Linked DNA regions of Homo sapiens: region 1 is linked to region 2. The links come from fine-mapping of genetic effects on gene expression. Tissue or cell type: whole blood. Region 2 holds a variant in brackets; the other region holds the start of a gene. All regions are shown on one strand. Distances are from middle to middle.

Region 1 (8,075 bases), 36 kb after region 2:
ACTTTATAAAAACTAAATGGGCCAAGGGTGGTGGCTCACGCCTGTAATCCCAGCACTTTGGAAGACTGACGCGGGTGGATCACCTGAGGTCAGGAGTTCAGGACAAGCCCGGTCAAAATGGTGAAACCTTGTCTCTACTAAATATACAAAACATTAGCTGGGCATGGTGGTGGGCATCTGTAATCCCAGCTGCTCGGGAGGCTGAGGCAGGAGAATTGCTTGAACTCGGGGGGGCGGAGGTTGCAGTGAGCCAAGATTGTGTCATTGCTCTCCAGCATGGGCAAAAAGAGCAAAACTCCGTCTCAAAAAAAAAAACCTAAATGGTTAGCAATAACATAGATTTACAAACCAACCAATCCATTCCAAGTCACTTAAAAGCAGACAGTTCTGAAAATGATTCACTTTTTGGTTTTCTAAGTACACTATTCGGTTACTATCCAGAGACAGGACTACTGGGAGGAATTATTAAAAAGTCAGTCCTAAGCCAGGAGTGGTGGCATGTACCTGGAATCCCGGCTACTTGTGTGGTTGAGGTGGGAGAATCACTCGAGCCCAAGAGTTCGAGTCCAGCCTAGATAACATGGTAAGACCCTCGTCTTTTTATTAAAGGTAGTCCTAAACTGGTATACACTGCTGAAAATGGGAAAGTCAAGGAGCTGATCCCCAAACAGTATCACAGGGGCGCTTGATGCACAGAGCATTTCTGCAGCCCAAGGCAACAAAAGCAAGGATGAAAAGCACCAAGGCTGCTAAGGCCTCTACGCACTGACTGTTCAAGACTGGGAGTCTGCGTGGGGTTGTGGCAGTAAGTCACCGGTGGCAAACTGGCAATTCTCTCTCTTGCCTAGCTATCGACATTAGTAACACCCTATACTATCTTCGTACACTTTTTATTACAATGTATAAACATCTTCCTCATAGAAGGGCAGGTAGTTCACATCTCCCCAGCTGCCTAAGCGGAGCGCCTGGTGCCCAGTAGGATGCCCCAAGCTGAACCCAGACCTGAAATATGACAAATTCTGATTCTCATGTTTTATAGTTTAATGTCAACCTTGGAAACAAAGTGATCTCTTAAATAAACCAACTTTTATGCAAAACTAAATGTCTCCTCAAACTAGTTTTAAAAATCACACAATTGGCTGGGTGTGGTGGCTCATGCCTGTAATCCCAGCACTTTGGGAGGCTGAAGCGGGAGGATCACGAGGTTGGGAGTTCGAGATCACCTTGGCCAACACAGTGAAACCCCTGTCTCTACTAAAAATACAAAAATTAGCTGGGCATGGTGGCACGTGCCTGTAGTCCCAGCTACTCAGGAGGCTGAGGCAGGAGAATCACTTGAACCCAGGAGGAGGAGGTTGCAGTGAGCCGAGATCATGCCACTGCACTCCAGCCTGGGTAGCAGAGTGAGACTCCGTTTCAAAAAATAGTAATAAGGTGCTACGAAGGGAAACGTGGCCTCTTAAGTGTAGACAATGAAATGAGAAGTGTAGACAGGGGTGTCAGTAGAAGAGTCTCAACTGATACCCACGTTTGCAATTTGTGCTCAGTTTGGTCTTCTTACACTATCTATAACTGAAGATTTTCAGCACAATTTAGAACTAAATCCTTAGTCCTCTGATCCACCAGATGGGTGAACTTGCCTAAGGAATGAAATAACAAGTGCCCATCGTCCCGTCTCCGTTGCTTTCTGCATTTGGCAGATGATACTTGATAGATATTTGTTGAATACATGACAAAAAACTCGTTAATTGAGGAACTACCTGTTGCCTACCAGAAAGGAATTTAAAATAAGTGCCCAGGAGGAGGAGGTTGCGGTGAGCCGAGATCCTGCCACTGCACTCCAGCCTGGGCAACAGAGTGAGACTCCGTCTCAAAAAATAATAGTAATAATAAAGAGCAGGTGCTACCTCCCTTCCGAGCAGCCCCTCTGGGAGGATGCACAGACTCCAACGGCACTGCTGAAATGCAGAGCGTTTGGGGACCTTCTCATTGCGAATGACCTTCCAAGCCTAAAGAAGTCTTCTGGTATTCTTAGTGGTGGCAAATCTTCCTCCTCTCAAGCTAGTCACTTTGATAAAGTGCTGCAAGTCAGAGTCTCACCTGATAAGGTGAGCTACCAACCACGTAAGTAAACTTTTGGTCAAACCTGGAGGGTGACTATTGAATAAGACTGATTTTCCCATATGACTACATTTTTACTACCACAACAGGAGTTCTAAAGAGATTCTGGCAAAGAAGCACCGATGAAATACAAGCACATTTTGGGACAATTACTTTCAACAGAGCAGTACCTATTTGAATGCCTAAGTTCTGGTACATCTGGTTAAAATTCTGACTCATAACCTCATGGACTTAAAATATCTAAATGAACGTTATCAAGGTTGGTGACAGACCCCACGTGCAAAGTGACCAAGCGTGACCACTAAACTCCTTGATAAAGAGGTACTCACCTTGAGATGCTCTGTAGCTGTGACAAAATACAAATCTCTGTAAACACGATGTAGGCCATAGGTTAACTTACCTGTTTGCTTTCTGGAGTGACTCCACAAAGCTTTCTTACAATATTTCAGCATGTCCCACCTACAACGGGAGAGGAGTTTCCGGCTTTGGGACACATTTGACTGGTTCCAGGGCTGGCTGGGCTCCATACTGCCCTTAGATAGTAAAATTATCAGGAAAAGACTCTCCTCCCAAAGCTGGGAAGCGGGATTCAGCCGAGGTCAAACCTCACCCGGATAATCCCAACTACTGAACGGGAAAGGACTACTCTACAGACAACAGGCTGGAGGTGAGTCTAACAGGAGACATGATGAGCACCTTGCTACACCCCAAACGGTACTTCAGATGCCAAACACTCTCTTCTTCCATTTTCCCAAATGGGTCTGAAGAATGACCTACTCTTGCAAATGAGTTAGCGTTGTTCGAACAAAGCTCATTTAAAACGGCCACTCTACCCGGCAAACTCAGTTGTCATAAAGTATTCAGGAAAAATGTTTGGCAGGAGTAAGGCTGTTAAGTTTCAGTTCTTCCAGCATTATAGCTGCAGTTGGTCTATATAAAGGACCCAGCACCTCTGATCTCCTAATCCAAGGGGCAAGGAAGTTACATACTCCTAAGAGACCGGCGCGCGTCTTGGGGCAATCACTGCGCCCAACCTGTGCACACTTTGAAGCTGCGGAGCAAGTTCCAGGAGGTTCATAAAGAGCTCAAAGTTCTCCGAAGAGCCCAGCAGCAGCCCGGGATGACCTACTCTGGAGGTGAATCTGGGCGCCTCTCACCGCCCCTTAGCCGGCGGCACACATGTGCCACGCGAGTGGCCCGGAAGAGAAATGACAGCTTCAGGAAAATAAACTCTGCCGCGGGGCGCGGAGGCAGCGCGCGAGGAGCTCGGGCGCCCAGGGCGCCCCAGGACCGCGGGGCCGGCTTACGGACGGAACTCGGGGTGGTGCCTGTCTCAAGGTCCCCTTCCCTGGGCCCGAGGGCCACGCTTCGGCCGGTGGGTCCGCACGGCCGGAGGCGCGCCGGGCTCCCGGGCCTCCCTCCCGCGGCCGCCGCCGCCGCCTCGGCGGCCTCCTCCTCCCGCCGCCGCCGGCCCGGCCTCCCGCCGCCCTCCCGGCCCCAGCTAACCTCAGCGCTAGGGCGGAGAGGAGGCCACGGCTCCCCTGGAGTCGGAGCGGCGTGGAGAAGACGTCCCTTGGCCCTTCCGCTCTTCACAGGTTCTGGCTCCAGGCTCGACACGGGCGGAACAAACGGGCTCCACTACCCGCGGGGGCCGGCCATTGTGCGACGTCATCAGGCCGCGACGGTAGTCCTACGGCCGGCGGGCTTCCCTCCCTCGCCCCGCCCCCTCCAGCTTCCTTCCGGCCTCCGCGCGGTTCCGCCCCCGCAGCGCGCGCCCGGACCCGCGCGAGCCAGCCGAACCCCCGCTACAGCGCAGGCGCCACGGGGAGTTCGCTTCTCAGGCGGCGGGCGTGCGGATCCGCGCCTGCGCACAGAGCTCCCCGCGGCCGCCGGGTCACGTGACGGGGCTCCGGCTGGGCCGGCGGGTTCTTCATCCCCGGGGATGATCGAGTTCATCAAAGTGGAAAACTTAAGGCGGTCTTCGTCGGGCTGATACTTCCTGCTTTATTGAATGTTGATATTAAATGCTTACCTCCGGAATTATTTTTTGAGGTATCGACTTTAGATTAAAAGCCTAACAATTCTTACCTTTCCCGTGGGCTGCCTGGCTCCCCGCGCGGTTCAACGCGAGCAGCGCCAGTGAGGGGACCTGTCGCGTGTCCTGCTCAGCGCGGTGTCCCACGGGCGCGTCCACAGCCCGGGGCGTCCAGGGGCTGCAGCGGTGCGAGCTGCTCTAGAGACGGAGGGCCCGGCCGGAGACCAGGGGCCGGCGGTTTCATCCTGCGCTGACCCTTGCCAACGACGTGGCTGGTCCTGGGGATCACAGGGCTTCGCTCATCCCATCTTCCTCCATATCCCCAAGGTGGAAACAAGGGGGCGAGATGTCCACAAACTGAGGAACAGACAAAATGCTGGCTGTCCATGCAGTGGAGTGTGAGTCAGTCATCAAGAAGAGTGAAGTTCAGACCCATGCCACAACATGGGTGAACCTTGGAAACATACTAAGTAAAGCAAGCCAATCGCAAAAGGACAAAACCTGTGCGACTCCATGCTATGGACCGAGTTCTGTCCCCCTAACATTTGTATGTGAAGCCTTAATCCCCAATGTGACTGTGTTTGCAGAAAGGGCCTTTAGAGAAGTAATTAAGGTTAAATGAGATTATAAGGGTGGGGTCCTGATCTGATAGGATTAGTGTCCTTGGAAGAGGTACCACAGGCCTGGCACTGTGGCTCACACCTGTAATCCTAGCACTTTGGGAGTCCAAGGTGGGAGGACCACCTCCTCCAGGAGTTTGAGACCAGCCTGGGCAACAAAGCAAGACCCCTGTCTCTACAAAAAAATTAACAGGGCACCGTGGTGCGTGCCTGTAGTCCCAGCAACTTGTTATGGTTACGTAAGAGGAATGTGAATTCAACCCTGGTGATTTTGGGTCGTGTCAGGAGCAGCCCTGCGACACCAGTTGGCACCTTCTGCAGACTCTATGTGTCGATAAGACAAGGTCCCACCCAGCAAGTGCCCTTTTCTCAGCTGATGAACATAAGCCTGCATGGACGTTACTGTCCATGGAAAGGAGCGGCCGGCACCGGCTGTGACAGACACGTGCCTGTCTGCGATCTGAGTTTCATGAACAGTAAACTCTGTTGGTCACAGCCTCTTTGGAAAACAATGTTAGTTAAAAGAAGTGCCCTGTGACCAGCAGTGCCACCCTCGACAGGGTTCTCCAAGTGGGACCCGGGCAAGCAGCCTCAGTATCACTAGGGGTTGTTAGCAATGTGCCTTCCTGGGCTCTGCCCCAGAGTGGCCGCACCAGTGACTGGGAGTGAGGTCCCAGGGCCCTGTGGTCCATGAAGAGCTCTCAGGGGATTCTGATGCCCAGTGGTACAGGTGGGCCACCGGACTGGGGTGTCATCTGCCCGTGGGCATGAGACATGAACAAGGACATAGCAGGTCTGTTAGTAGTCATAACTAAAAGAACAAAGGAGCCGGGCACGGTGGCTCATGCCTGTAATCCCAGCACTTTGGGAGGTCGAGGCGGGCAGATCGCGAGGTCAGGAGATCGAGACCATGCTGGCTAACACAGTGAAACCCCGTCTCTACTAAAAATACAAAAAATTAGCCGGGCGTGGTGGCGGGCGCCTGTAGTCCCAGCTACTCGGGAGGCTGAGGCAGGAGAATGGCATGAACCCGGGAGGCGGAGTTTGCAGTGAGCCCAGATCATGCCACTGCACTCCAGCCTGGGCAACAGAGCGAGACTCCGTCTCAAGAAAAAAAAAGAACAAAGGAAAAAACCAGAAAACCACCCAGATGTTGATGAGCAGATGATTGTACTGTTGTAATAGTAATCTGGTACAACATTTGCAACATCGCGGTTGTTAAAAATGCTAACGCATGAACCTCCAGTGTGTATACACAGATATAAATAAACGGGTGAAGACCATCTGTGAGGTTGCATGACAAAGGCAAGTGCAGAAGCAGACAGGGTGGGCACATTTCTTTTCTTTCTTTCTTTCTTTTTTTTTTTTTTTGAGACAGAGTCTCACTCTGTCGCCCAGGCTGGAGTGCAGTAGCGCCATCTCGGCTCCCTGCCACCTCCGCCCCCTGGGTTCAAGCGATTCTCCTGCCTCAGCCTCCCGAGTAGCTGGGACTACAGGCGCCCGCCACCACGCCCGGCTAATTTTTTTGTATTTTTAGTGGAGACGGGGTTTCACCGTGTTAGCCAGGACGGTCTCGATCTTCTGACCTCGTGATCCTCCCGCCTCGGCCTCCCAAAGTGTTGGGATTACAGGCGTGAGCCACTGCGCCCGGTCCACGTTTCTATCAAATTGAAATCATGAGCGGTTTTGCTGAGGGTGTGGGGCACCCAGAGCCTGCGGCCTGTGCTCGAGTGAAAATGGTGGCCCCGCTCCAGAAGCCTGCGACGGCGCTCACGGAACCGCAGCCTTCGTGCGGCGGCACCTGGGCCGTGCTACTCCTCTGTGACTTCCCGGAAGAGATGAGCTGCTACGTCCAGCAAAAGGCACATCCAAGATCGTTCACCCCAGCATGACTCGTTACACTCCGGACTAGAAGGAACCCCAAGGTGCTTCAGTGACAGAACGATGAACCAGCTGGGGTGTAACCCCCATGCAATGGAATATCGTACAGGAACGAAAAGGACACGCTACCCCTACAAGCAACATGGATCTCAGAGGCAGGATGTTGCGCAGAAGAAACCAGACACAAATGCTTCGGCTCGTGTTGCTGCGACTCATTACAGGCAGCCGAATCTGCGGTGATGGGGGCCCCAGGAGCAGTGACCAGGAGGCAGTGCCACGGAGCCTGCGGTGGGGGCTGATAGTCAGTAGCGTGACCTGGTTGGGATGTTCTGTTTTTAAGCTGGAGTCCATCATGTTTGTTTATTTGTTCATTTCGTAGAGGTGGGGGTCTTGTAGAGGTGGGGGTCTCACTCTGTTGCCCAGGCTGGTCTCAAACTCTGGGCCTCAAGCGATCCTCCCACCTTGGCCTTCCAAAGTGCTGGGATTACAGGTGTGAGCCACTGCATAAGGCCGTTATTGTTATTAGTGCTTAAAAATATTTAGTAAACATTTTATTTAGCCTAAAAACCATTCAGAGAGCAGAGGCTGGATGGAACACGGCGTGCCAGGCGGTGAGAGCACAGACCCTCCTCTTCCAGAGCAGGAAGTGGGTAAATGACTTTTAAGCCTCATTTCTGGGGTGGCAAAACTCTTCTGTATGAAGAAGTACAAATATGTAATGTCCCATAATGGCAGCTATGGGACGTTACGTATTTGCCAAAACCCACATAACGCACAACGCCAAGAGTGAACTGTAATGTAAACTGTGGACTTAAGTCAATGATCGTGTCCCGATACGGGCTGGTTGGTTGTGATGCAGGGCAGGTGAGGCCCAAAGTGGAGCTTAGCCTGCCAGCGTTCTTGGCTTTGCCCAAGAAAGAATTCAAGGACAAGCCGGAGGTAGAAGAGAACAACTTGATTGAAGAGGCAGTGTGGCAGGTCCGTGACGGCTCCTGCAGAGCTGGGCTGCCCAGAAGGCAGAGAGCAGCAGCTCAACGCACTTCTGCAGACCCATTATACCCACTTTTAATTACATGCAGATTAAGGGGCAGTTTATGCAGAAATTTCTGGGGAAGGAGTAGTCACTTCTGGGTCACTGAGTCATTGCCATGGAAAGGGGTGGGAGTGTTGCCATGGCGATGGTAAACTGACACAGAACACTGGTGGGTGTGTCTTTTTTTTCTTTTCCTGAGACGGAGTCTCCCTCTGTCACCCACATTAGAGTGCAGTGGCCTGATCTCGGCTCACCACAACCTCTGTCTCCTGGGCTCAAGCAATTCTTCTGCTTCAATCTCCTGAGTAGCTGGGGCTGCAGGCATGGGACATCATGCCTGGCTAATTTTTGTATTTTTAGTAGAGACAGGGTTTCACCATGTTGG
Region 2 (8,079 bases):
TGGACACAGGCATCAGTAAGTATACTGGCAAATCTCATTTTCAAAACCAGGCCGAGCTGGGCACAGTGACTTATGCCTGTAATCCCAGCACTTTGGGAGGCTGAGATAGGCAGATCACCTGAGATCGGAAGTTTGAGACCAGCCTGACCAACACGGCAAAACCCTGTCTCTACTAAAAATACAAAAAATTAGCCAGGTGTGATGGTGGGCACCTGTAATCCCAGCTACTCAGGAGGCTGAGGCAGGAGAATTGCTTGAATCTGGGAGGCAGAGGTTGCAGTGAGGTGAGATCACGCCACTGAACTCCAGCCTGGGTGACAGAGTTAAACTCCGTCTCCAAAACAAACAACCCAGGCCGGGCGCAGTGGCTCATGTCTTTAATCCCAGCACTCTGGGAGGCTAAAGCAGGCGGATTGCTTGAGCTCAGGAGTTCAAAACCAGCCTGGACAACATGGTAAAACCCCGTCTCTACAAAAAAAATACAAAAAAATTAGCTGGGCATGGTGGTGCATGCGTGTGGTCCCAGCTACTCGGGAGGCTGAGGATGGAGAATCATTTGAACCCAGGAGGTAGAGGTTGCAGTGAGCCGAGATTGCACCGCTGCACTCCAGCCTGGGTGACAGAGTGGGACCCTATCTCAAAAAACAAACAAACAAACACCACACAAAAAAACAAAACCATAGCAAGAACCAGTTTTCAGGCAAGTCTTTGTTCAAATGACCATTAATGTAATCGCTGCCTCTGAATTCGTTCTCCGTAACAATCAATTTGGTTTTCAAATTGGTACATTGTGCTGGCTCTATAAGCTCATATAAAGCCCTGTATTTTTTACTGTAAATAAAAAGGGATAACTTGAATGAACAGATCATGAAGTTCATATGTGGATATTGAAGTCATACTTACTCGGTAATTATGATACGGCTCTGTTTCTGTATACTGCACCCTGAAATTCTCATACTGTCCGCCACGCCAAAACCGCTCAATTTCATAGTCATAATAAGGGTCTGCGTAAGGCTCGAGTCTGAAAAGGGCCAATGAAAAAGAACTCTCATCACTTAGGAGCACTGGCGTAAAAAGACCACACGAAACATTAGGGACAGAAAGTAACAGACCGTGACGCAGTGGGGTTTACTCCAGGAGCGCAAGGTTGGCTCAAGGTTAGGAAATCTGTTCACAAACTACATCTAAGAGCAGGCCAGAAGTCAAAGGGTTCTATTCACAGATGATAAAAATGTCTAACAAAAATTCAATAGCCTTTTTGATAAAAAATACTCAAGAAAATAGGAAGTGAGGGCCAGGTGTGGTGGCTCATGCCTGTAATCCCAGCACCGTGGGAGGCCGAGGCAGGTGGATCACCTGAGGTCAGGAGTTTGAGAGCAGCCTGACCAACATGGAGAAACCCCTTCTCTACTAAAAATACAAAATTAGTTGGGCGTGGTGGCACATGCCTGTAATCCCAGCTACTCAGGAGGCTGAGGCAGGAGAATCACTTGAACCCAGGAGGTGGAGGTTGCCATGAGCCGAGACTGTGCCATTGCACTCCGGCCTGGGCAACAAGAGTGAAACTCCGTCTTGAAAATTAAATAAGAAAAAAAAAAAAGGAAAGAAAATAGGAAGTGATACTTTAGCATGATAAAAATATACTGACACACTTTGGAACAAAAGTCAGCACCTTACTCACTGGGGAATAGGAGGAGCTCCCCCAGGAGTCTCCGCAACCACCTGTCCCTGTGTGGAGGCACCCCCTGACTGGACAAGGGGAGCCCACTAGAGGCACAAGAACACGAAAACAAGGAGCAAAACGAGCTCAGATTTGCAAAATGATATGATACTATACATGAAAAACCCAGAGACTTGATAAAGCCAATTCAAACAAACAATGAAGAAACTTGGAAAGGCAGAGGATAAAAAAATTAACATAGAAATCAGTGTCTTCACAGACACAGATTATAACCAGTTAGGAGGCAGAGTGGAGAAAACCGCATTTACAATAGCAAGAAAGAAGAAAAAAGTACTTAGGAATAAAATATCAACACATTTCACCAGAAATGTGCAGAGCTGATTCCTGAGAGACACAAAGTGTGTGTGAATAAGTGGGGAGACGCCTGAGAGACATGAAGCGTGCGTGAATAAATGGGGAGACGCCTGACATGAAGCATGTGAATGGGGAGATGCCTGAGAGACATGAAGTGTGTGTGAATAAATGGGGAGATGCCTGAGAGACATGAAGTGTGTGTGAATAAATGGGGAGACGCCTGAGAGACATGAAGCGTGTGTGAATAAATGGGGAGACACGTGACATGAAGCCTGTGAATAAATGGGGAGACGCCTGAGAGACATGAAGCGTGTGAATAAATGGGGAGACGCCTGATACAAAGTGTGCATGAATAAATGGGGGTTTTGAAACCTGACACAAAGCGTGCATGAATAATGGGGAGACGCCTCTTGCACTGGGAGAGCGCAGCTCGGAATCGCCCACAAGTCAGTCCTTCCTACACTGACTGATAAATTTAACACAATCCCAGCAAAAACACCAATGAGCTTCTTTAAGGAGCCAGACAAGCTGACACCCAAGTTCACATGAAAAATCGCACCCCAAGAACAGCCAAGAAAACCCTGGAAATGAAAAGACACGCCAGACACGCCCTCTGAGACATTAAACATCCTAAAAAGCCTGTATAATTAAGCCAGTGCCATCGCAGCACATGAAAACCGGCGGCCAGAAGGAGGAGGCAGGAGGTCCAGAGGCAGACCCAGGCACGCCCAGAGAGGTGGCATCTCAGGGACAGAGGGGATTCTTCATTGAACAGGGAGGGGACGACTGTCCAGCTGCTGGGAAGGTCAGGCTCTCTTCCCCACTGCGCACAGGGTTGGGGGGGGCCTGCTCTAAACTCCTGGCGGGGCCCACAACTCTGCATCTCCTTTCCTGTGGAGCAGAGGAAACAAAGTGTACACTAGCAATAGGAGGTCCCTGGACGCCCCTCCAGGGTATGTCTCAGCCACAAGCCAACCCTCTGCTTCGGGTAGACTGGGTGGGAACCTGAGGCATCATGGCTTGAGGTGGCTCCAGCGATGGGTGGCTACGAACACCCTCGAGGCCTCCTCAACTCTCCACATGGCCTAGAACTGGCTCTCCCAAAGGACACAGCTTCAGTCCGTTCCCATCAGTCGGACACCGTTCAATCTAATGTGCACACTACTCAAATCACACTGAATTATAACACTCAGGAAACATTTGTAGAGACCTGTGGCAATATGACATCAGGCTACATAAAAACGAAGAGGAAGCCTGGACAGCACGCGAGACACCGTCTCTACAAAAAACACATCAGCAGCCAGGTCTGGTGGTGCATGGCTGTGGCCCCCAACTACTCGGTGGGCTGAGGCTGATTGCGTAAGCCCAATAGGGTAGAAAAGCCTTTCCCAAAATGTGTGAGGCGTGTGTTCTCTGACAAGAGGACTGTGCCGGCAAATTTGTTTTTGGGAAACTGTACTTAAGCAAAATGAAAAGGCCTCTTTCCTGCAGGCTTTCTGGAAGTCGTGGATGAGCGGATAGGAATGAGGCACACAGCATTTCCTCAGCGTGGCTGCCTCGGAACCATCTGCTCCGCAGCATGCGTTCTAGAGAACGTGTCAACACAACACGCCACCAGGAACTGCAACCATGCCAACAACGGACTCCTCAGCACCATCCTGAAAAATTCTGAAACACTCTTGAAATGAATTTGGAAGGTATTTAATTCAATTTAAAAATAAATGCTACTGGGCAGTATCATGGTATGCACAAACTCTTCCCCAACTGTTTTAGGGAACCCAAAATGTTAATGGGCCTTTTGAGAAAAGGGTTCTGTGGTGAAGCAAGGTTGGGCAAAGCTGGCTCGCAGCAACTGGGAGGCTCGCACCTCGTTCTGCAGTCACCACTTAACCAGCCAACACCAACAGTGTCCTGTGCACACACGTGGAATCTGCACTCCAGAGGCCCCGCGTCCCCAGAGGTCTGGGCAGCGTCAGACTCAGCACTGGCACGTGGAGTGGACCTACTCCTCGCTGGAGAGGAGAACCCGAGGTCCTGGCTAAGGGGAACCATTGGACATGCCCATCAGGGGCAGGTGGTTTCTGCCCACAGCCTTGCCCAGGGAGAGGCATGGCAGGTGAAAAGTCGAGCAATTAGAGAACGTGTAAGACAGAAGTTTGGAGCTTCGAGATCACTTTGTTTAACCATTTCATTTCAGTGACAAGGAAACTGGATCTCAAAAAGTACTAGGAAAAAGTTCTAAAATGTCTAACACTACTCACTTTTAATCTAAGGGTTATGCAATATTACACAATGAAATGCAACTTGCAT[T/G]TGCACAATTCAGGTTGAAATCGTGCTGACCTCAACCCAGGTGGAGGGAGGCTGTGCTCTGCAAAGGGTGGGAGTCAGATGCTCACGTGTCCCTGCTTGCTGCAGAGACCCAAGGTGAAAAGGAGGGTCCCAGGCAGCTCACAAAGGGAGCAGCGACGCAGCCCCCTGCTGCCTCTTGCCCTCACCCCAACCCAGCATGGTCGACCTGGTGCCCACCTGCCTGTTGCCCACGTTCCTGTTGCAACGCTGGCCACTGAAAGTGCAGGCAGGGGAGGAGGTCCCCAAAGGCATGCAGAGGCCACAGGCAATGCCTGGGCACCCATACATCCATCTGCCCTGAGTCTGTGGGACTGTGGGCTTACCCATGTGGAGCAGGCCCTGTCTTACTCTCCAGGTAGCCCAACCCTCCCTCCCTGCTCACTCAGGGGGCTTCCCCACAGGGCACCAGCAAATCCCAGGTAAAAGCCACTTGTGCTCTCTCAGTTAAGCATCTGGGACAAAGGAGGTGCTGGACCAGCATCTGGTAGACCTGTTACCTGAGGAAAGGGAGTGTGCTTTTTGAAAATTACTGTTCTGTTTCCTCTGTATCCCAGCCTGACATCCTACTCCAAAGAACAGCAGCCTGCACCTCCGCCTCTAATACACCGGCACTGCACTACTCTCTGTGCTGGGGGCGTATGGGGAGTTGGCAGGGGCCCAGTCCATGGCCCTGGCCATGGCCTGACAGCCTGACTCTGATTTAATCAGAAACTCTGTTCACGGTGGGGCTACTACTGATGACCGCATTTCTCACAGGTGACGTCCTGTGCGCACTAGAGGCCCTTGTGTCTTTTGGGTCACATGTCCCTATTAGACTTGTAGAATATTCTGGGCACAGCATCCCCAGGAGCCCTATGCAGAGATGACATTTCTTTTTTTTTCTTTGAGATGGAGTCTTGCTCTGTCGCCCAGGCTGGAGTGCAGTGGCGCCATCTCGGCTCACTGTAAGCTCCGCCTCCTGGGTTCACGCCATTCTCCTGCCTCAGCCTCCCGAGTAGCTGGGACTACAGGTGTCCGCCACCACGCCTGGCTAATTTTTTGTATTTTTAGTAGAGATGGGGTTTCACCATGTTAGCCAGAACGGTCTCAATCTCCTGACCCTGTGATCTGCCTGCCTCAGCCTCCCAGAGTGCTGGGATTACAGGCGTGAGCCACTGTGCCCGGCCGTCATTTCATTTCTTAATGTCTTACATATGTGAGAACTTTTTTTTTTTTTTTTGGAGAAAGAGTCTCACTCAGTCACCCAGGCTGGAGTGCAGTGGCACGATCTCACTTGCTGCAACCTCCACCTCTCGGGCTCAAGAGATTCTCCCACCTCAGACTCTTGAGTAGCTGGGACTACAGGTGCGTGCCACCATGCCCAACTAATTTTTGTATATTTTGTAGAGATGGGGTTTTGCCATGTTGTCCAGACTGGTCTTCAACTCCCGAGCTCAACTGATCTGCCAACCTTGACCTCCCAAAACACTAGGATTATAGACATTACTAGCTACTGTATCCAGCCAATATGTGAGGTTTTATAAGTCAGATGGTACCTGAACAAAGTGCTTGAGGTGGTAGAAACGGAATATTTAAAGCTGCGAATCAGAGTGCGTCTGTCTAGCAAAGTATTATTATTATTATTATTTTAAGAAATGGGGCTGGGCACGGTGGCTCACGCCTGTAATCCCAGCACTTTGGGAGGCCAAGGCCGGTGGATCACAAGGTCAGGAGATCGAGACCAACCTGGCTAACATGGTGAAACCCCATCTCTACTAAAAATACAAAAAAAAAAAAAAAAATTAGCCGGGCATGGTGGCAGGCACCTGTAGTCCCAGCTACTTGGTAAGCTGAGGCAGAAGAATGGCGTGAACCCAGGAGGCAGAGCTTGCAGTGAGCCCAGATTGCGCCACTGCACTCCACGCTGGGCGACAGAGCCAGACTCCGTCTCAAAAAAAAAAAAAAAAAGAGACGGAGTCTCGCTCTGTTGCCCAGGCTGGAGTGCAGGGGCATGATCTTGGCTCACTGGCAACCTCCGCCTCCCAGGTTCGAGCAATTCTCCTGCCTCAGCCTCCCAAGTAGCTGGGATTACAGGTGCATGCTGCCACGCCCTGCTAATTTCTTCTGTATTTTAGTAGAGATGGGGTTTCACCGTGTTGCCCAGCCTGGTCTCAAACTCTTGAGCTCAGGCAATCCGTCCGCTTTGGCCTCCCAAAGTGCTGGGATTACAGGCGTGAGCCACCGTGCCCGGCCACAAAGTATTATGTTTACTAAGTGATCCTGCTAGGTCAGTTTTTAATTCCAAAAGAGATATAAAGAAAAAACAGGCCAGGTGCGGTGGCTCACGCCTGTCATCCCAGCACTTTGGGAGGCCGAGGCAGGCAGATCACGAGGTCAAGAGATTGAGGCCATTCCTGGCTAACATGGTGAAACCCTGTCTCTACTAAAAAATACAAAAAATTGGCTGAGCGTGGTGGCGGGCGCCTGTAGTCCCAGCTACTCGGGAGGCTGAGGCAGGAGAATGGCGTGAACCCAGGAGGCGGAGCTTACAGTGAGCCAAGATGGCACCACTACACTCCAGCCTGGGTGACAGAGCGAGACTCCGTCTCAAAAAAAAAAAAAAGAAGGAACAACAATTTTCTTGTCCTTTATGTCCTCAAGACTTCTCGAAAAGTCCTCATATTCCACTGGTTCTACAATGAAGTGCCTAGAGCTCCATCCTGTAGTAAGCAAAGCCTGCCTGCATGAAGGTGCTTCTATGTGACAATTATTTGCAAAACTCAACATCAGGTGGCTAACGTCTATATTCCCAGCAACTTAGGAGGCTCAGGCGCGAGGATTGCTTGAGTCCAGGAGTTGGAGACCAGCCTGAGCAACATAGCAAGACCTCATCTCAAAAAACCAACAGAAAACTCTCGACATTAGGAAATAAAATAACATGGTATCTTCAGAGAATTTGTGTCCCTGGAATTACTTACAATCAATGGTTCTCAAACTTTAATATGCATCAGAATTACCTGGAGGGCTTGTTAAAAACAAACCACTGGCCTGGGCTCTCCCTGGAGTTTCAGACTCAGTCTTCCTGGGGTCGAGCTAAGAATCTGACCTCTCACATGCTGCTGGGGGCAGATGTGGCTGAGGTTAAGGCACCACACCAGGAGGTCACAGCTATCAATCCAGGTTGCACTCTCCTCACCTGTGAGGCAGGGACATGGCCCTGACCTCGGCCTGCTGTGACCCAAAACAGGTCAGGAGCACTGGATGCGAAGCCTGTCATGCAGCAGGATTGCAACACATAAGTGCTGCTGGCTTGGCCTCTTCTGTGCCATTAAGGCCCTGGAGCCTGACCGCCAACTGGGCTGCCAGCCACCCTCCTGCACACCCTACAAGCTGCGACCTGCTTTGCCAGCTGTTCCAGGTGAGGCCCTGCCTGCAGCGGGCACAGGTAGGACCGAGAAGGCTGGGTGACAAGAGGACCCACTCCTGCCAACAGCACGCACCAGGACATCTGCACTTGCAGTGCAGCTCCTTCCTTCCCTCCGGGTCTCAGCAGCCCAGCTGTACTGGCTCCCTCTACTCACTGTTTTCCTCTGTAGCAACCTACCTGGTGGACCCACCCTTCCCTTAGATGCTCTTTGTGACAATCATAGGGGGGTCTCCACCCTCCTGGCAGAACCCTGACAGTTCTTTCCACTGTGTCTATCAGAAACAGCCAG

Evidence for each region. PIP is the estimated chance that this variant, and not a neighbour inherited with it, causes the effect.
Region 1: ZC3H18 starts here. The variant in region 2 is fine-mapped to the expression of ZC3H18 in whole blood (TOPMed, PIP 0.97).

What each region holds. Positions count from the first base shown.
Region 1 is chr16:88,566,119-88,574,193 of GRCh38, reverse strand. It overlaps ZC3H18 (zinc finger CCCH-type containing 18), which reads right to left and starts at 3,791. Exons shown (of 18, transcript NM_144604.4): 1 at 3,628-3,791. RefSeq lists enhancers at 3,201-3,250, 4,341-4,390, 4,501-4,610 and silencers at 3,521-3,590, 3,771-4,100.
Region 2 is chr16:88,601,876-88,609,954 of GRCh38, reverse strand. ZC3H18 (zinc finger CCCH-type containing 18) reads right to left here. Exons shown (of 18, transcript NM_144604.4): 7 at 904-1,021. Among named protein-coding and RNA genes, the nearest start is that of IL17C, 33 kb to the left of the region's middle. RefSeq lists an enhancer at 2,304-2,804. The variant T/G (reference allele first, on the strand shown) is at 4,346.